6 linked regions of the Homo sapiens genome follow. The protein of the gene in region 2 purifies or fractionates together with the protein of the main gene of each other region. This does not show direct contact. Each region holds a gene or a part of one and is shown on either strand. Other genes may lie near its edges.

Region 1 (3,500 bases), on a different chromosome or scaffold from region 2:
TGGAGTAGATTAGATGACCTTGGTTTTTATGGTCTAAAACATTTTCTACAGAATGGTGCTTACTGAGGAGCTGTTTACTGAGAATTGGAATAAAAGGCTGCAGAATTGTGTGAAGCTTGCCCTATATTTATGAATCAGATTTTTAAGTGGAAGCTGCAGTTGTTTCCTTGTTTGTCATTCATGCTTTAGCAGAGGATATGATGCCATAGAGCTGGCTTGGTTTGTAGCTTCTCATTTAGGGTTTGCACCACTTTCTTTTCCTTTTTAGAGGCCACAGCAGTTTTGATGTATTATCAAACCGCAAAATGTACCTTGTTGGGTATTTAGCAGAAGGAAATGTGTTGACTGTTACACATCCCTTATCTACAGTGCTTGAGACTGTTTTGAATTTCTTATTCTTATTTTTTTTTTGAGTATTTGCATTATATATACTTGCCCATTAAGCATCCCAAATCCAAAAAGCCCAAATTTGAAATGCTGCAGTGAGCATTTCCTTGGAGCATCATGTCAGTGCTCAGAAAGTTTTGAATTTTGGAGGACTTTGGATTTTTGAATTTGGAATGCTCAGTCTGTGTTTGATAGTTTCATTAGTGATTGTGGCATTCCTGTTTAGTCTCATTTTGAAAATACAGCATAAATTTAAAAATGCATACATACATATGTCCATACATATTACTACCTATTCCATATAGGTAGTATATAGCCATACAACTGCAGACACATGGAAAACAATTCTTAACCTTTTGAATGTATTAGTTTGTGTTTAAAGATAATGTTTTATCTTGTTTAACTGGAATCTAATATGTTAAATCTCTTTTATTCTACCTTAGCATCAAGGCATGCCATGGGTTGCCTCTCATAAATGGCCAAAGCTGTGACCCTTATGCAACAGTTTCTCTAGTGGGCCCTTCTAGGTAATATTTATTGAATTATTATTAGGTTTTAAAGTTTTGATGTTTGATTTAAAAATTTAAAAAGTAAGATTCTACGAGCAAATGATAAATAGCTATTTATAACACACAGTAATAAATGCTTTGAAAGAAAAATCTTTAGTGAGTTCTATTATACACTTGTCAATAACAAAGCCCTCTTTTTACAGACAGAAATTGGTACCCCATTTTAAATCTGCCATGCTCTTAGGCTTTAAGGAACAACTTCAGTTTTATACTAGTACAATGTAGTACTTTAAAACATAAACTTGACTTTTCATGCATCAGCATTCCTACTTTTCAAATATCCTGAATTTTATGCATGTAAAATCCTGTTTTAATGAATGCCAGTTCAGAATAACAAGACAATTTATATATTTTTATCTGGAAGGCAGCTCAGGACTGAAAATTGCCTTTTCTACTCATGAAATCTGTCCTCTACAGAGAGAATTCCAACTGTAGAAAAACTGCTGAAGTACTAGAGCATGGCAAAGTGTACCATATCATTGATTTAAATGATTTATAATAATTTGTGAAAAAACCTATAGCACTTTGTAATACGGTGTGTTATATGACTTCATTATGATTTCTTTAAGGAACTGACACATCTGAAATATGTCTACAACTTGAAGGTTTAGAATCAGGAAGCAAGAAACACAGTATTCCCTCTACACACACATACATGCATACATACACACCCCTTTTCCCCATCCCCAGAATCTCTAGTTATTCTTACTTTGTAGAAAATCACTACTAAGTCACTTTGAAAAATGTATTTATGTATGTATGTAAAGTACCTAGTACCATGCCGGTATTTATTAGGTGCTCAAACAATAGTATGCTATTAGCAGATACTCAGTCGTATGACATTAAATGCTATTAGAGAGATTTATTTTTGTGTGTTAAAAATGTTCAATCTAGTGGAGCTATTTTTGTTTTTTTTAATAATCTCTACCTGACAAATTATTTGGTAACATACAGTTAGAGACAATTTGGCATATGAATTTGTGTTTTAAAAAGTCTGGCCAGGCGCAGGTGGCTCACGCCTGTAATCCCAGCACTTTGGGAGGCCGAGGCGGGTGGATTACCTGAGGTCAGGAGTTCGAGATCAGCCTGACCAACAAGGAGAAACCCCGTCTCTACTAAAAATACAGAATTAGCTGGGTGTGGTGGCTCATGCCTGTAATCCCAGCTACTCGGGAGGCTGAGGCAGGAGAATCGCTTGAACCCTGAGGCGAAGGTTATGGTGAACCGAGATTGTGCCATTGCACTCCATCCAGCCTGGGCAACGAGCAAAACTCCATCTCAAAAAACTAAAAAATAAAAAGTCACTGTTGGTTTTGCTATTGTACTGTAGTTGTGTAAGATGTTAACACTGGGAGAGGCTGGGTAAAAACACAAGATTTCCTTATGCGTTTTTTGTGACCTCCTCTGAATCTATAATTAAATTAAAAGATTTTTTTAAGAAGTCTCTATTATACCTGAAGCCCAAGAAGTAAGCTGAGTTAAGAATGTTTTTCAAGTTCCTTGGGTATTTTTCAACATAGATGAAGGTGCTCTAAATCTTATTGTCTTCCTTCTATTTATTCTGAGTTGCTTATAGAATAGAATGTGTTTTTAAAACCCCTGAAAAAGGTTGGCAATCTAGTGTGTCCGTAGAGAGAATAATACAATCTTGGCACATAGGGGATGCCTAAAGCTTATATATTCTTTGATTTGAGTTTATAAGGACAGTTACTTTTTTCCAAGCAATATTTAAAACTGAATCTTCCCTGAGTCACCTTAACTTTTAAATGGAGGTCAGGCTCCCTGGTTGGAAATAGCATGTTTTATAATTGTGTACTGTTAAGTTCTACAAGGTAAAACTCTACCACATTGGAACAGGAATGACCAAAAGAAGACAAAAGTAAAGAAGAAAACAAGCAATCCGCAGTTTAATGAAATCTTTTATTTTGAGGTAATTTTTTGTTTTACGTAAATGTTAACATTAAATATGTAATATTTAATGCTAGTTGATTTCTTTTTTCAAACCACAGTCATAGTAATCATTTTATCAATTAATGCAGATAAGCATTTCTCTCCTGAAAGCAGTAGAACCATGGTGTGATGCAATGGATGCCCAATATATAAAATGAATAAAGGCAGAGCTCTAATTTGGGAGCAGGAAGGGCCAGGGCCATACCCACTCCCCAGTCATCCTCACTATTCATGCCCTTCCTTTGCACCCTCCCTTACCCTACCCAGCTCCCTACCTAACACATAGTGGCCACAGGATTCTTCTGCAGGGTACCCTTTGACAGTCACTAGTGAAGTAAGTGTAATTATCACTCAAGAAATCTGAGTTCCAGTCAAGTTGACTGAAAGAGTCACTAAATGTGACTCAAGTTTCTTATCCTGTGAAAGAATAATCGGAAGGGAAACTAGCAGCACTACCTGACTCAGAGTTTTTGTAAGACCCAAAGCATGTGAGAATCCTTTGAGACCATAAAATACTTTATGATTACAGCTTTATTATTACTTTTTTTTTTAAGCCTAATTCATTCTGTGGACGCCTGCTTATCTTCATAGACA
Region 2 (2,441 bases):
AATGCCAAAGTAGTCCTTGCTCCTGACAGATTTTCAGAGGAAACCTTAGCTGCCCCTGCAACAGCTGTGCTGTGCTCCTCCGCCAGCTATGGAGTCATGAGCACCCGAACCCATTTCACAGGTGTCACAGATGTCAAATCTCTGGGGGGTCTACCCTCAGCCCCGGCTCCAACACAGCACAGCCCTATCTCCTGCCTCCAGTGTAGCCCTTCACCCCAATCCCACCACCTTCTCTTCCACAGAAAAGAGCCCCGATGCAATGTCCACATCTTCATATTTATTTCCACAGTGTTAACATGGAATAGACTTAGCAACCATTGCAGAGAAAAAAAAAATCTCTCATTGGTTTATGAGTTAAATCCTGTAACAATGAATTTCAACCATTCGAAGTCTTCTGCTGCTTAACATTTACTGAATCAAAGGCTGAAGTAAATGGACTCTCATCTAGGTCTCAGAAATCACACAGCTGGCCTCGTGATGTATTTACGATGGGATTTAACTTCTAATACAAGGCAAGTTTGACAGTTACAGCCAATGAAGTGCACGACTCTGTACATGGATTTCTTGACCTAACATTCAAAAGGACATTTCATAGTACTAGTTTAATTCTGATCTCTCTCTAGAAGGCAGAAACCACATCCCACACTCCTATGCAATTTGTTATTTTGGTATTGTAAAGTAAATGAATAAGAAGGGGTGGAGGCATAAAGAAAATCTAGTTTCTGGCTGGGCAGGGTGGTTCACGCTTGTAATCCCGCACTTTGGGAGGCCAAGGCGGGTGGATCACGAGGTCAGGAGATTGAGGATCATCCTGGCCAACATGGTGAAACCCCGTTTCTACTAAAAATACAAAAATTAGCCGGGCTTGGTGACATGCGCCTGTAGTCCTAGCTACTCGCGAGGCTGAGGCAGGGGAATCACTTGAACTGGGAGGTGGAGGTTGCAGTGAGCCAAGATCGCACCATTGCACTCCAGCCTGGGCAACAGGGTGAGACTCTGTCTCAAAAAAATAAAATAAAATAAAATAAAAACAAAGAAAAAAAAATAAAATCTTTAGGCATTCCCAGACACAAAGATCTCAGAGACAGACAACAGAGAGCCTCCGTGTTCATCTGCCCGAGGCTGTTTGTCACAGTTCCCTTAAAAGATGCCTGGAAATGCTCCCAACAACAAGGGACTCAAGTATGGGGCTGAGTTTGTTAAAAAAGCAGCTAAATGTGTTTAGGAAACACACGAAGTGAAACCAGACAGTGATGGCCCATGTACAAGACTTGTGCTTGAAGCTTTGGTGTGCCTCCATGGCCAATTTTTCAGGCACCAAAACCCATTCCTGATTAATTATTGATATACAATGCAAACCAAACTATGAAAACACAGACTTTTTTTCAGAAGAGGGAAATAAAGGCACAGAAACCTGCCAAAATAGATATTTTTTTCCATAAGAATAGTATGGTTGATTAAAATAGTTTATCACTAGTAAAACTTGTATCACTAGAGCAGACAATACAAATTAGTTTTTTAAAAAATGACATTCACTGAATTCTTGGTCTGTGCATTCAATGTGAATAATCATCAAAAATATATTACAATTAAAGGTTTGTAAGGAGCTCTGTCTGGGATTTCTGCAGTATATTATTTCGGAGGAGAAGAACCACCATAAAGTATGAGCTATCCACTGTTCCTTTTTATGTCATGTATGGTAATCAGTCTATCTCCTAATGCAGGCTCACAAACTTCCACGGTGAGATGTCTAAGTGACTTAGTGACCTTCACACTCATTAAAGGCAGCCCTGTCCATCAAACTCCATACCTAGAAAGTTCAATAAACTGTATTACATTTTAATAAATATTTCTGTGTACTTTTTGTTTTTTGCTTTTAAGCTCAGCTTAAATTTTGTCAAGGAAACCATTTCACAAGACAGTATGTCACAGCCTACTATCAGCAATAGTCCTTGTTTATTAGAATCTGCAGATGTCCATATTACATCAAATATAAATATATATTATATTTACATTTCCTTCTTAGCTTTCAATTTAGGTGAGTGTATTTATAGATAATGCCACTAACGCACCACTATTCTAATCCTCAGTGCAACTCATACCTTCTTTCCATTAGATGCTCATTAATGTAAGACAGCATCTTAAAAGAGGGGTACTGTTCTTTTTTAAAATAAAAGGAAAGAAAGGGAATCCAAGAATGGAGGTCTAGACATTTCCTAAGAGATTTTTGTTTTGTTTTTTATACTTAGAAATACTTGAAAAATGTGGTCCCTTTTTGTAGTACTAGTCTCTACTTGGGGACAAGAAAATAGAATATGCAACTCAGAAAGGAAAGAGCCCAAAGACGAGAGAACCTGCTTGTTAGCTCATTAACCTGTTTAGTAAAGATCTGCTTTAAAATGCCTGATGCTGTGCAGTATCATACAAAACAATCTTCAGCC
Region 3 (3,500 bases), on a different chromosome or scaffold from region 2:
TCACTGACCTCTGATAGGAATATGGAGAAGCGTTTGGAATAAAGAGGATCATACTGATCAGCCAGATGAAGGATGAAGGCAAAGTCATTCTTGACATCAGGGATGTCACTGTAGTTGCTTTTTTCTCTTAACGCCTCAAAGGAATATTGCTTCAGGGAACTCCTCAGCATCCACCACAGGCTGTAGGAAGAGGTCAGACCATAAAGTATAACCAAAATGACATAAAATGAAGCCAGGACCTTAAAGATTTCTGCCAAGGAATAGACACACTGGTAGCGCTTATATCCTGTAAAAGCCTGCACATCAACTGAACAGTCGATTTCAAGAGTGATGTGGGTTAAAAAATATGGAACATAAGTTATGATGAGCACAAACAAAATGACTTTGACTATTATCTGTTTCAGATATACTCTATAAATGATGTCCTTCTGCTCCACATGCATGCGGAATCTTTTCACTTTTTCAAAGATGGCTTTGGCCTGTTCACCCTCCTTCTTGTCCAGGACACTGGAAGTTGGGCTTTCTATGCCAGCTGACTCCAAACCTGGCTGTGGGTAGGGCAATGACTGTTTGCCGGAATCTATGTCAGCTGAACACCCTGAGGACGAAAGCAAAATCTTGGACTTGGAGAGTTTCAGAGGCCTCACTGACTGCTCAGCCACTGTTTCTGAAAGGGCGCGGGTGGTCCATGGAGAATCGAAGCACTTGTGAAGGATGGCCACAAAATGCTCGAGCCTGGAACTGGTACTGGGGTAGTGAAGCCAAAAGTTGCTGCAGGCTGCAAAGATGAGCGTGTGCAAGAGCACCAGATAGGGGAAAAACTTTGCAAACCAATGGAGCTGTTTCTCGTAACAGACGGCATCAATATAGGAGTACTGCTGTCGGTGGAGGTCATTCTGAATTCGGAGGGGGAGCGGAAGCGGTGTCCCAGGATTAGAGGATGTGTTCATGCTGGCTTTCAGGATGTCCCAAGGCACGGCACAGTGATTGTCAAATTCCACTTTGCATGGAAGACAGCACAGAACCCTGCTCTGCGTCAGCTGGAGAGCTCCGGCCAGCACGGCCACCAGCAGCATGATCAGTGTGATGTAATACCAGAAGACGTCCCACCATGGTTTTAAGATGTGATAAGATGACTGGGCATCTGCTAAGCATTTTAGCTCAGTTAGTGTAATCATGACTTTCCCTTGTAGGAGGACAGAAACTGGAAGAGGGAAATAAAAGAAACACTACTGAAGCAAGTACTCAAATAAGCATTTTACTCTAATATTCATACACACATGCCCTCCTTCCCAAGTAGGATTTAGCTCTGGGGTAAAACCTAAAAGGAAGAGCTGATTAAGGGGCACATAAGTCTTCTGGTTTCATTTGAAACTATAGGCCATCCAACTCTGAACCATAGTCTCTTAGATGGGGGACCATTTAGTGATACTGACTAGAAAGAAATTTAGGGGTAGCCCTTGAGGTAATTATCTCGTTACCTCTTGTATCTCAACTCCAGGCTAGGCTACTAAAAACCAGGAGCCAATTTTTCTTCAACTGACATTTGAAAAACTTGTTCCTATGCTACTAATATTTTTTTCTTTCTTTCTTTCTTTTTTTCTTCCTTTTTTTTTTGAGACAGGGTCTCACAGGCCTCAGACTCTTGGCCTCAAGTGATCCTCCCTGCTTGGCCTCTGAAAGTGCTGGAATTACAGCTATGAGTCACCACAGCCAGCCACCTAATTTCCAGTGGTCACATTTTACCTTCCAAAATGTCTGAGTAAGCTCCTTTCCACACCTTGTCCCATGTCTGAAGCATCACTTACAGCCCAAGAGTTGTTTTAGTCACCACAAGGAGCCTCTTTTAAGCAAGCTCTGCTTTGTGAAATTACCCCTTAGGCTTAGTGGGGTCTACAATTCTATGCCCAGAACAACCTGTCACTGAATGCATTATCTCCTTTCCACACAAGCTTTCGCTTTGTAATTTAAGTACATGAGTATGAAAAAACTTAGAGTATTTAAAAGTTGGGAAGTATTTAAAAGTTATGGCTTAAAAAAGAATAAGAAAGAAAAGCTCTGCTAGAATATTCTATCATGGGGACTCCCTCTCATGTTTAATGTTGTGATGGCAAAGTACTAAAAGGATAAACGATGGAGGCATATTCCATTATTAAATTACTTTTGCCTTCAGGAAAACAAGATTATCTTGTATTTTCATACTGAAAAGTATTCAGACAACATTCCTGAGAATTTCTATGTTGAGTCTTACATACATCAATTGTTTCAAAAATTGCTAATCAGTAAAATCCAGATGATCTATAAGATGGCACAGAGTAAAGTAAAAGGAAATATGTGGGTCTTAGAAAATATCTGATAAGAAAAAGAAGAAAAATAATAATGGTAGCATGGTGCCCCCTTGCTGGTAGTCCAGCTCTAATCTATTTTCAAGGGTTTCTCTTGGATTTTCTTGAGTCTGAAGTCTTATCATTTATTCTGGGCCAGAGTTACTCTCTAGACACTCTAGTATTAGTAGCATCCCCAAGGAAGCCTTTTTTTTTTTTTTTTTTTTTTTTGAGACGGAGTCTAGTGGCGTGATCTCAGCTCACTGAAACCTCCACCTCCTGGGTCCAAACAATCCTCCCGCCTCAGCCTCCCGAGCAGCTGGGACTACAGGCACATGGCATCACGCCCAGCTAATTTTTGTGTCTTTTTAGTAGAGACAGGAGATGGGGTTTCACCATGTTGGCCAGGCTGGTCTCGAACTCCTGACCTCATGATCTGCCCACCTTGGCCTCTCAAAGAGCTGAGATTATAGGCCTGAGCCACTGTGCCTGGCCAGGAAGACTTTTTTACTCTCATTTGCCCTCTTTCTGGGGTCTGGTATCCTGCCTTGAACCTTAGAGTCCCATTACAGAGTCCCTGCTCCCTGTTAATAAGTCTCATCCTCAGCATATTCCTGACCATCTGACCCTGAACCCTACAGCTTCATGCTCTTGTACCTGTTAAGGCATTTTACAATTTCTGAGCTTAACTGCTGGACTGGAGCACTACTTTCTGCTTGTGTCCTCTCTGGGTATCACATAATATTATATGGATTCACCTTCCTCCTAGGACCTACAGGTGGATTATATAGCTCTTCAGGGCTTCTCTCCTTCACTCCAGTTTAGTGGATCTATTTCTAACTCTCAACTCTTCTCATTCTGCCTCACCTCTCTGCCTTACATAATTGTGTGTCGAGGTAAGACAGAAACTAAAATGAGAGGAATACATGAAGCAAAGAGAAAGTCCTGGGCTTAGACCTCAAAATACTATAAATATGATGTGGCCAGGGGTGTGAGGGATGGTAGAAAACACTGCTGGATGAAAGAAAGAACATGTGAAAAACAGTTTAGGATTTTAGTTGACATGTATGCATACTTTCAGCTAGTCATGAGACAGCTGTTACGCTGAAATACTGATTATAACATCTGGCCATATTAATAGGTAAACCCAGATAAAGGAGCTGCAGTCCTTCTGTA
Region 4 (3,500 bases), on a different chromosome or scaffold from region 2:
GCGGCCGCTTGGGGAGGAAGCGCCACGTGGGGAGGAGGCGGCTGCGTGGGGAGGGAAGTGGGGAGGAGGGGGCTGCATGGGGAGGTAGTGCAGCATGGGGAGGAGGGGGCCATGTGAGGAGGAGGGGGCCGCGTGGGGAGGTGGGGAGGAGGGGGCCGCGTGGGGAGGAGGGGGCCGCGAGGGGAGTAGGGGGCTGCGTGACGAGGAGCCTCCAGCACCGCAACGCCCAGGAGGCGCCAGGTTAGGCCATCTGCCTGGCCTGTTCAGCCGCTTCCCACACCTGACAGGTCAGATGCTGCTCCTGCCACGGGGCCGGCGACGAGCCACAGGCTCCCGAAAAAGGCAAGGGGTTCACTTTAGGAGGGGAGAGGTGAGCGGGACGGGGACGCTCAGGTCCTGGGTTTCAAGAGAGGATGTGGTGCCGGCTTTGATTCTTGATCTTTATCTTACGACTCTCTCAAATGTGGGAGGTTTTTCACGTGTATTTTCTGAAGAGAGAAAAGAATCAGTTGTCCCTAAAAAGAGAAAATGAAGAAGAGGGACTCACAGATTTGGACTTGGACAGGCTGCCGAGGGTCTGAACGGTCTTGGAGATCAATGTCAGCGTCCTGGACGTCTGGGGGTCCTGGGGAGGCGGGAGCAAGAAAGGTCTATGTCAGCATCACAGAAATGCTGTGACTGTCCCAGATCGAGGGGACGAAATGCAGGAGTCACCTCAGAGCTGCTGTGGCTTGTGCATGAGCTACGGAGAAACAGGGGTAGCGACGCAGATGGGACTGGAGGGGGTGGGCGTCCCACAGTCTCAGGAGCTGCTGAGACCATCCCGCAGGCAACATCCGACGGCACCGCGGTGACCCACTCTCTCGGCCCAGCGTGCAGGGTGCATCTCAAAGTCGAAAGCATCAGGTGGGGTCATGGCTCTGGGGCGCTGAGTCTCGGGGTGCTGAGTCTCCTGGCCCTGCCTGGGGCTCATCTCAGCCTTCACAGGGTTTGAAGGTTCAACTCAGAAGTGCTGGGGGCCGGGCTTGGTGGCTCACGCCTGTAATCCCAGCACTTCGGGAGGCCGAGGCAGGTAGATCACTTGAGGTCAGGAGTTCGAGACCAGCCTGGCCAACATGGTAAAACCCCATCTCTAATAAAAATACAAAATTAGCTGGGCGTGGTGGCGCACGTCTGTAATCCAAGCTACTAGGGAGGCTGACGCACGAGAATTGCTTGAACCCAGGAGGCAGAGGTTGCAGTGAGCTGAGATGGTACCACTGCACGCCAGCCTGGTGACAGAGCAAGACTCTGTCTCAAAAAAAAAGAAGTGCTGGGGAATGGGCAATCCCTCACGTCCTCTCGCCCTGGCCATCTCCTTCCAGCTCTGCCACCCGCACGTGCAACACGGTCACCCCAGATCCCTGTACCCTGAGAGCTGCGGCCCCAGCAACCACATTGGGGCCTGGAGAAAATCAGTGCTAAATAGGAATCTGTTGACTCAATACACGGATGATACGCCGATCATCAATACTCCATATGTGATGGGCAGGGGAGGAGAGCAGGGCGGTGACCAGCAGCTAAAACCCTGGACAAACCGTCCACTGCTTTTGTGACACTGTCTCGACTCCCCCAGAACGTACACAGCTTAAATAGGTCGGTGAACCACCTGCAACGAGGACGTTCCAGGACCCAGCGCATCCACCAGCACTCCCCACGCACCGTCCACACACTCCACACACACTCCACACGCACTCCCCATTCCACACACCTTCCACACTCCCCGTGCACCGTCCACACACTCCACACACACTCCCCATTCCACACGTCTTCCACACTCCCCACTCCCCATGCACCGTCCACACACACTCCCCATTCCAAACGCACTCCCCACTCACTCATTACACACACTCCCCACGCATTCCACACACACTCCTCATTCCATGCACACTCCCCATGCATTCCACACACACTCCCCATTCCACACACACTCCTCATTCCACGCACACTCCCCACTCACTCCTCATTCCACACACACTCCCCATTCCACACGCCTTCCACACTCCCCACACACTGTCCACGCACTCCACACACTCCTCATTCCACACACACTCCCCATTCCACACACACTCCCCACTCACTCATTCCACACACACTCCCCATTCCACATGCCTTCCACACTCCCCACGCAGTCCACGCACTCCACACACTCCTCATTCCACAAACACTCCCCATTCCACACACACTCCCCACTCACTCCTCATTCCACACACACTCCCCATTCCACATGCCTTCCACACTCCCCACGCAGTCCACGCACTCCACACACTCCTCATTCCACAAACACTCCCCATTCCACACACACTCCCCACTCACTCCTCATTCCACACACACTCCCCACTCACTCCTGATTCCTCACACACTCCCCACGCATTCCACACTCCACACGGTCGGCCCCCTACAGCCACGCAGATGCCCCAACCCAGGCCGGCGTCGCAGGACAGCTCAGAAAGCCTCGGTCCCTCAGCCGGTCACTCACCGTGTGGTGCGGCGTGAGCTGGAAGAGGTTGGGGGAGAGAATGGCGGGCGCAAAGAACCTCAGGAAGATGAAGCTGCTCACTGCAGTGTACCTGACGTCCGGGTCATCTGCGGGAGAGAGAAGCAGGGTGACCGTTTTCCTCGGGCACAATGGCCTCGTGGGGACACCATGCCCCGGCCCCCTGAGGGTCCGCAGGGAAGTCCAGCCACAGTCCTGGCTCTATCTCCACCTGTGTCTGTCTCTCTCCCTCTCTCTGTTTCCCTCTCTCCCTCTCTCTGTTTCCCTCTCTCTCTCCATCTCTCTGTCTCTCCCCCTTTGTCTCTCTCCCTGTCTCTCTCCGTATCTCTGTCTCTCTCTCTCTCCCTCTATTTGTCTCTCTCTCATCTCTCTGTCTCTCTCCCTCTCTTTGTCCCTCTGTCTCTCTCCCTATCTCTGTCTCTCTCTCTCTCTCTCCGTCTCTGGCTCTCTCCCCCCCTCCATCTGTCTCTCTCTCTCTCCATCTCTTTGTCTCTCTCCCTCTTTGTCCCTCTCCCTGTCTCTCTCCCTATCTCTGTCTCTCTCTCTCTCTCCCCCTCTCTCTCTCCGTCCGTCTGTCTCTGGCTCTCTCTCTCTCTCTCCATCTCTCTGTCTCTCTCCCTCTCTGTCTCTCTCCCTAACTCCATCTCTCTCTCCCCGTCTCTTTCTCTCCGTCTGTCTCTCTCTCCATCTCTCTGTCTCTCTCCCTGTCTCTCTCCCTATCTCTGTCTCTCTCTTTTTCTCTCTTTCTCTGTCTCTCTCTCTCCGTCTCTCTCTCCCTGTCTCTATCTCTCTGTCTCTCTCTCTCTCTCTCCGTCTCGATCTCTCTCTCCATCTCTCTCCGTCTGTCTCTGTCTCTCTCCATCTCTCTCTCTCCGTCTCTATCTCTCTCTCCGTCTGTCTCTGCCTCTCTCTCCGTCTGTCTCTGCCTCTCTCTCCGTCTCTCCCTGTCTCTCTCTCTCTCTCC
Region 5 (3,500 bases), 1.0 Mb from region 2:
TCAAAACAGCGTGGAAATGACCAAAGGCTCTACTGTCCACCCACTACTTACACAGTTAATGTCTTTAACACACACCTATAGGGACCTACTATGTTCCAGGAACTGCTTCAATGCTGAATACTGTCTCTGACTACAGTATTTCCATACACAGAATTCTAGACACGTATGCAAATATGCTACTGGGCATATTCATACTGTGTTTTCTTTATAGTGGAATTTCACAATTAAACAACTTTTGTCTTTAACATGTGCTACCAAATATTTAAGAAAACTATCAAGAAAAACCACAAACTAAAGGCAAGAGGTGGGGAAAACACCACATTTGTATCTGTCTCCAGCCCACAATAAGCGCAAGAAGCACTGTCTCTTCCTTTAGGATTAGTTCTTCGTAGGGAAACTGCACCTCCCTTTTCTGGAAGATGCAGAGTGACCTAGGGCCTGGGCAGCATCTGCCCGGGGACAGCTGCTACAGAGGGGCCTTGATAAGGGCTCTGCAGAGCCCATGACCCCAGGTGGTCAGGCCCAGGTGCGATGCTCTCTCCCACAGCCAGGGAGGCATCTGCCCCCAGCCAGCTGCCTATGCATTTATGTTGCAGGTCACAAGGGAACCTCAGTGTGGCGATGGGCGAGTAGGCCTTACCCTCGTTACCAAAAAATGGCCCTCCAGGCCAACAGCAGCTTCCTTTTGCTTTCAGACGCTCAGCTAAAAGATCACCATGACCCTGACGATTAAACACCAGCTGGGGAACCCAGGTTCAAGGAGACATGGAGGCAGACAGAATGGGTTTGAATCCCCAGTCTACTACTTACTGCTGGGCAACCCTGGACAAGTCACTACACCTCTCTGAGTTTACTCTCCCGCTCTGTAATATAATGATAATAAATCCAACTTCATAAGATTACTAACAAATTAGAAATAAAGGTACAGAAAGCACCTGCTATAGTTTCTGGCACATAGCTACTGCTTAATAAATGGTAAGTTATTTAGTAAAGCAAGCCAGAGGGCTCCTAAAAACACAACTTATCTCTAAGCAGCAACTGCCTATACCAAACCCCAGGCCAGGACAAGGAGGGCCAAAGAAACCTGCTGACAAATCTTCACACAGTGCCACAGAGAAGTTCCTATAATAATTAATCCAAGCAAAAAGCATACTCCCTAAAGTTCAGAAAATATAAAAGGAACACTTCTTGCTTTATGGCTACAAAGACCAAACTAACTGGGAATATCAGTCCCCCGGGCCACCCCTGCTTCTTAAATGAGATTACAATAAGAGTGATGTACTGTACTACAAGTCAGCTGTGACAAGCAGCACTTTATAGAGCTATCTGTTTGTCTCCATCACCGCATCGCACAATGTGTCCCTGGACTCCAATGTGCAGTTCCATTTACCGCTACATGACAAATGGGCAGCACTTGTAAAAGGCACAAAGAGGTCCACGTCGGCCACGTAATGGTCACCACAGCTGTACCCGAGTGCTTGAGGGGACAAAACAGACCCCCAAGTTCATTAAACTGACCAGTAATGGATCTTTCAAAAAGTGCCTTAGGAATCATACAGAAAAGGCTGAAATAAATAACTCAGCATGGAAGGCAAATCTGAAATGGTGTTTGATAAATTATTTATAACATGGGCGATTGTCTGCATTTAATATTGGAGCTACTAGTAGCATCTTTAAAAGATGATTTATGTGTTGTAATGCTATTAAACTTTATATTGGCCCACTGCTAGCTATAAAGTCTGCTGAGATTTAGAGAATGAGTTTTAAACTGTCACTGCAACATCATAGGAGATGGAGACTGTATTAAATCTTTACTTTAAACCTGTTATCTAGAGAGTTGCATTTTGTAGACACTCACAAACTGATAGATTACCTCGGCATCCACTATAGTGCAGGTCCAAAATAGTACTGCCAAGAAACTTTTTCCGCATTATTCTTGTCTACAGCTACAATCGAATTTCTCTTCTCACTTAAGTGATTTTTAGATTGGGAATGTCACCAGAGAAAAATGTAGCTGTGCCAGCCAATGGGCACTCTGGACAGTTCAGCATCAAATTAATACTCTTTAAATACACCCTCTTCATTTGACTGTTCAGCTATGCATCTCAACACTGCTTTACTTACACTGGAGGCAGGCAAAATATTAAATATGCACTTGACTGAAAACCTAACAGACTATTTTATACATAGCTTTGGAATGTGAAAGTTCATGTATATGGCAAGTCATTTGACATAACTGATTTGTAACTAAAATTTTTAAAATAATTTAAAAAGAAATAAAATTGGTTATTTGCCGGCAAATATATTGTTTATGTAGCTGAAGAGCTGGCCTAGGGGGCAGAAAACAAAGAGATACTCAGCCTTTTTCCTGAGGAACAGGGCTCCCCCAGCTCCAAGGGTTTTCAAGGCAGCACCCAAGTGTCCCTTGCCTTCTGCGCCACCTCCATGCCAGGAGGAAGGGGTGCAGCTCTCCTGCCTTTGCTGGGGGAAGCAAGAATGCGGATGGCATCACGGCGGAATCCTCACAACTTTCATCCATTTCCCTGTGTCTTTCTGAATCTATATTTAGTTCCATTAGTTCACAACCATTTGCTCCTTCATTAACCACTAAGGATTTAACTCGTAAGAAGTGAGGCAGGGGAGGGTTGGGGAGATGCTGGCCAAAGGATACAACATCTCAGTTAGAAGGAGTAAGTTCAAGAGATATATTGTACAACATACTGGTTATAGTTAATAACAATGTATTGTATTCTTGAAAAACAGCTAAGATTTAAGTGTTCTCACCACAAAAAAAAAATTTGAGGTAATGCATGTTAATATATTAGCTTGACTTTGCCATTCCACAATGTACACAAATTTCAAAACATCATTTGCATATGGTAAGTATATACAGTTTTTATTGCCAAGCCAAATAATTAATTTTTTAAAAAGAAGGCAATCCAAATGCAGCTTGGAAAATCTTCATTATCTTTTGTCACTTTGATTTGAAATAGCAAAAAATTCCATTCCTCTGATGATCTAGAGCAGAACAGATAAAAGTCTGGGTGTGATGAGAATTTGGACTCTAAAGAGAGAGGATGAAAATTCTGAACATCAGGGGTCCGCCCTACACCTTCTCCATCTTTGTATCCCAGGGAACTAGCCTGGTGCTTGGCATGTAGGTCAACAAATGAAAAAACGAAACGTTCACTTCAAATGCATGCATGGCTCTGCCAAACTCAAAGACTCTGAAATCATGAGAGAGACCCCTACCAAATGGGGCAATTCCCAAACTGCACCAGTCCCAACTGGAGACCATTCAAAGACAAGCGCTTGAGAGGAGGAGGTCTGAACACGATGTGTTTGTTGGGGGCCTGCTGACAGGCTAAGGCTCTGACTCTGCCACTGATGTGGCCTGAAGACTCATTAATGGTTGATGGTTGAATACAATTGAAAGAGCTCAAAAAAGTGTTTGAAACGGTCTCCGCGAAAGCAGCATGCTCCCTGCACTGAGTCACAGA
Region 6 (4,056 bases), on a different chromosome or scaffold from region 2:
TGGTAATGTCCTGTGTCTCAGTTTCCTTCCCTGGGTTCTCCACCCCTAAGCTTCCTTTATGCAGGCTCCCACCCCTCAGTTTCCCCAACTACAGATGTGGGGTCAGATGGGCTGGGATCCCACTAGCCGAGGGCTGGGAGACACACCCCCTCCTGCAGACCCAGCCTGACCTCCAGGCCCTCCTGGGAGCCGAGCTCAGCACTAGTCAGCTGCAGGGCTCTGACGCATGAGGGCCTTATCAGACTCCTATCAGGGAGGGCAACGGTGGCAAGAGGGGGTGGCTGCTTCCAGACCCCTGATCTCTCCAGACTTGTGGCCTCTCCCACGGCCCCTGACTCAGCTCAGTCTTGGGAAAGCAGGCCCCTCAGCCATTGCCTGCCCAGTCTGGTTTGGGCATGGAGTAGTCAGAGTTCAAATCGCAGCTGGGTGACCTTAGGCAAGTGACTGCCTCTCTGGTCCTCAGTTTCCCCATTTGTAAAATAAGAGACGCCAATAGAACTATATGAAGTGTTAAGCACAGGGCCTGTCCATACTAAGCCCTCAGTGACTGACTGCTACTATTTCTAATAGTAAAAACTCTAAAATTACCTGAAGAGGCCTCCTCCCGGGCCAGAATGGACCCCCCTCAAACCTGGCAATGCTTTAGGCAGAATCTGGGCCCTTTCCCTTAGGAGAAGAGGGAAAGAACACACCCCACCTAAGGGCTCCCATGGCATGGAGCTCCCAGCAGCCTCCAGGAAGAGCCCCTTTGAAGAAGGGTGCTGACAGCTAGGGAAACTGAGGCAGGGTGGCCAGAACCCCCCCTGCCAGCTGGGGCTAAGTGACTCCTCCCCACCCTTGCTCTAGGGCATGACCTATTTCATAGCTCACTGGCCCAGGAATTGGGGGCAGGAAGTTTGGCCAAGAGCTGCAGGAACCAGGCATGACTCAAGTCCCTTCTCCAGAAGAGCAGCAGGTTACCGTAAGCCAGTGTCCAGGTGCAGGGGTGACACCCATCGCCCCCTCATGACCTCTCACCCAGGGCTGGTGGAGGGGCCAGAGCTCAGTGAGTGAGAACCCCGTTTCTGGAAAGAACTCCTTTCACCACCTAGCAGCTGCCAGGCATCCAGCCTGGCCTCAATGCCCTAACAGTGTAGGCCGTCTCATTCCCAGGGCCTCTGAGGGGACATCTTAGAAAGAGTCTGGTGGGGGGGCTTGTCCAGCCACTGAACTGTCAGAGCACACACTCTGCTTCTCATTCAGGGTGTGTATATTTGGAGTAGCCAATGAGGATGAAGGGTGGCAAAAATTGCTCTCAACAGCTGCCCCCTTGACGCAGCTGCAGTGTTTTGGGGGTTGGGAATGTCATAAAATCAGGCAGGAAAGTCCTCTCTGGGAGCCCACACCTTGGGGAATCAGCACAGAGCTAAGACTGAATCTTGACACAGGTGAAGGCTCCCAATCCATGCTCCTGCTCACCTGGGCCACAGGGGAACTCCTAACAGGTCCTCCACCCTCCCAGCTGGATGGGAGACCCCAGGCAACCAGATGGGGACTCCGGTCCAGAGCTCTCATTGCCCAAATGGGAAACCAAGGCCCAGAGAGAAGCAGGTTCAAGGTCACACAACAAATGTCCTCCAGAGGATCCCACACCTGTCGCAGGTGCTAAGGCCCTCAGAGCCCCTTCTGGGCACTATGCCAAGCAGGAGGGGGAACCCGCCCCCCATATTCTGCTGATTCAGCAGCTGCTGACTCAGCCCTGGGGGAAGCATAGCTTGGGACTAGTAGTGAAGGGAGCCGTAGGGTCCCCCAGTCCCATTGCACCTGGCTGGGGAGGGGGTCGCAGCAAGGAATTGGCTCTTCAAGCAGCTCAGCACCCGGGGAAGGCCCACACGAGGCTGGGAGCCACAAGACTGGGGAGCTCAGGGCTTGGGGTCAAAAGGACCCTGGAGGGCCACCTGGTGACACTCTGCAAACCTAAGCACCAGATCCACACAGGATGTTAGGGCTCATCTGATCCCAGGCCCTCTCCAAGGGTCCTCCCCAGGGTTCCCTTGCTAGGCCCCCACCCACGCCTGGAGGAGCCACCTCCAACATCTGCCTGGACTAAGGAAGAGACCCCCCGCTTTCTCCCCTCCCAGATCTGACAGAATATGGCCCTCTAATCCCCTCTTCAGCTCTGGACGACCCCCTTTAGTACATCCCGGGAACAAAGACACCCCCTCCCCTGCCCGGGGGTGAGGCGGGGCATCTGCTAACTCTAGGCGCCCCCCTCCCACCGGGACAGCCATGGGCATGCGGCCTCTCGCCCCTTTAAAGCGGAACTGCCCCAAGACCAGTCTTGGACAAGAACCCCTCGCCCTCCTGCCAACCCGCCCTGGCACGCGGAAAGGGCGACGTCGGCCCCACCCCAGGCCTTGCGCGCCCCTCACCCAGAAGCGCCCGAGGAGTACTCACACGTCCTTGGCAGGCAGCGCGCGGCCCTCCACCACGCGAACATTCAGGGAGCTGCTCTTGGCCATGGCGCCTAGCCACAAACTTTCCAGGCAGAAGGGCGCTCAGGTTCCGAGGCTGGACCAGGGGACGTCTACATGTCACCTGCTTCAAGCCTGGCTCCCTGCCTCGTGGTCCCAGTGCCGCCTGTCCGAGACCCGGGTAGCTGGATGGGAGATTTCCGAAAGAGGAGAAGGTGTAGGTGCCCGGGGAGGGAGCGCCCGTCCGGACTCTACAGGTAGGAGCCGTGCTCCGAGCAGGAGGAGCGCGCAGGGGGCGCAGCGGGCTCTTGCCGAGGCGTCTGGAGCTCCAGACAAGCAGGCTGGGCGGGCAGGGGGCGGGAGGGGCGGCCCAGGGACCTCCCCACAATCCCGCCTCCAATGGGGTCCCCCACCTGACCCCGGGCCCCCTCGCGCGCCCTCTACCGGCACCCCAGTCATGCGCGCCAGAGCGCACGGGCGGCGGAGACAAGGGTGCACCGCCAGGTGGGGAGGGGCCCCCGTCCTGATGGGCGTGGCCGCTGGCTCCTGGTGAGTTGGCATTGGGCTTAAAAGACATGGTCTGTGCCCCCGCCTGTCCCTCATCCAACATATTCACACCTCTCCGCCCCCACCCCTCCTTGCCTACCATGCAGACACCTGCCTCCTCTCTCCAACCTCCGCGCCCCCCGGTCCAGGAGCAAGTATTAGTGGTGGGTGGGAGGCGTCGCCAGAGAGAGGGTCGCATGTTCCCTGGGGGTCCGTTCAGAGTCAAGGGAGGGGCCTTGAACATCCCCTTCCATCTCGTTCTAGTTTCCAGTTAAACACAGAACCCAGACTCTGCTCTAACGTCACGGGCTGGCACTGCGGGGGAGGAAGCCGCGGCCAGATGGGGGAGGGGAAGGCTTGAAGATAACCACTACAGCGATGATAAAAAGTCATCTACAGTTGTTTGAACACTTCATGGGTGCCAGGCACTGTTCTAAGCGCTTTACTGGGATTAGCTCATTTTTGTCTCCAGATGTGCACTACACACTACTCCACTGTTACCCCATTATCCGCAGTTTATGGATAAAGAAACTGAGGTTCAGAGGGATTAAATAACTTGGCAGAGGTCTCACAGTCAGTAACTGATTTGCCTTCCAGGGGTTCGAATCCTGGCTCTGCCATTTGGTAGCTGTCTGGACTTGGGTAAGCCATTCAACCTCTCTGTGCTTTGGTTTGGTTTTCTCATCTGTTGAGTGAGGATGACATTGCATTTCAGTCACAGGATTTTGAAAGAATTAAAAGAGTTAATGAAGATAAAAGTCTCAGGACAGTGACAAGTACCTAATACACGTCCAGAAAGTGTTTGATATTCTGATTGTTGTCCTTTGAGGCGTGGGCCACGCGTCACCTCTCCTGGGAAGGCTTCCAGGATGCCCTTCCACTCCGGTAGAGATTTTCTTTCCTTTCTCTCTGCTCCAGTGGCTCCAGGTTTGTACATTTTTCTGATTTTAAATGAGATAATATGACAGGCAGGGCCTGTCCCAGAACAGATCCGTTCGCACACTTATTTCTCCCTGTGAATTCATTGTTGACCTGCCCAAGACCTCTTAGAAAGGCC

Evidence for each region.
Region 1: the proteins of GAPVD1 (region 2) and RASA2 fractionate together in Homo sapiens (co-fractionation; one large-scale study listed by BioGRID). This does not show direct contact.
Region 3: the proteins of GAPVD1 (region 2) and LRRC8B fractionate together in Homo sapiens (co-fractionation; one large-scale study listed by BioGRID). This does not show direct contact.
Region 4: the proteins of GAPVD1 (region 2) and RASA3 fractionate together in Homo sapiens (co-fractionation; one large-scale study listed by BioGRID). This does not show direct contact.
Region 5: the proteins of GAPVD1 (region 2) and PSMB7 fractionate together in Homo sapiens (co-fractionation; one large-scale study listed by BioGRID). This does not show direct contact.
Region 6: the proteins of GAPVD1 (region 2) and RASAL1 fractionate together in Homo sapiens (co-fractionation; one large-scale study listed by BioGRID). This does not show direct contact.

What each region holds. Positions count from the first base shown.
Region 1 is NC_000003.12:141,553,027-141,556,526, forward strand, and holds part of RASA2 (ras GTPase-activating protein 2), read left to right. Parts: intron 1-830; coding exon 831-914; intron 915-2,813; coding exon 2,814-2,886; intron 2,887-3,500. UniProt on the Homo sapiens protein: Inhibitory regulator of the Ras-cyclic AMP pathway. Binds inositol tetrakisphosphate (IP4).
Region 2 is NC_000009.12:125,362,826-125,365,266, reverse strand, and holds part of GAPVD1 (GTPase-activating protein and VPS9 domain-containing protein 1), read right to left. Parts: 3' UTR 1-2,441. UniProt on the Homo sapiens protein: Acts both as a GTPase-activating protein (GAP) and a guanine nucleotide exchange factor (GEF), and participates in various processes such as endocytosis, insulin receptor internalization or LC2A4/GLUT4 trafficking.
Region 3 is NC_000001.11:89,580,329-89,583,828, reverse strand, and holds part of LRRC8B (volume-regulated anion channel subunit LRRC8B), read right to left. Parts: intron 1,205-3,500; 5' UTR 1,179-1,204; coding exon 1-1,178. UniProt on the Homo sapiens protein: Non-essential component of the volume-regulated anion channel (VRAC, also named VSOAC channel), an anion channel required to maintain a constant cell volume in response to extracellular or intracellular osmotic changes.
Region 4 is NC_000013.11:114,010,624-114,014,123, forward strand, and holds part of RASA3 (ras GTPase-activating protein 3), read right to left. Parts: intron 2,626-3,500; coding exon 2,519-2,625; intron 626-2,518; coding exon 548-625; intron 489-547; coding exon of another isoform or gene 447-488; exon of another isoform or gene 32-446; intron 1-31.
Region 5 is NC_000009.12:124,359,943-124,363,442, forward strand, and holds part of PSMB7 (proteasome subunit beta type-7 precursor), read right to left. Parts: intron 1-3,500. UniProt on the Homo sapiens protein: Component of the 20S core proteasome complex involved in the proteolytic degradation of most intracellular proteins. This complex plays numerous essential roles within the cell by associating with different regulatory particles.
Region 6 is NC_000012.12:113,132,962-113,137,017, forward strand, and holds the start of RASAL1 (rasGAP-activating-like protein 1), read right to left. Parts: upstream 2,801-4,056; 5' UTR 2,502-2,800; coding exon 2,437-2,501; intron 1-2,436. UniProt on the Homo sapiens protein: Probable inhibitory regulator of the Ras-cyclic AMP pathway. Plays a role in dendrite formation by melanocytes.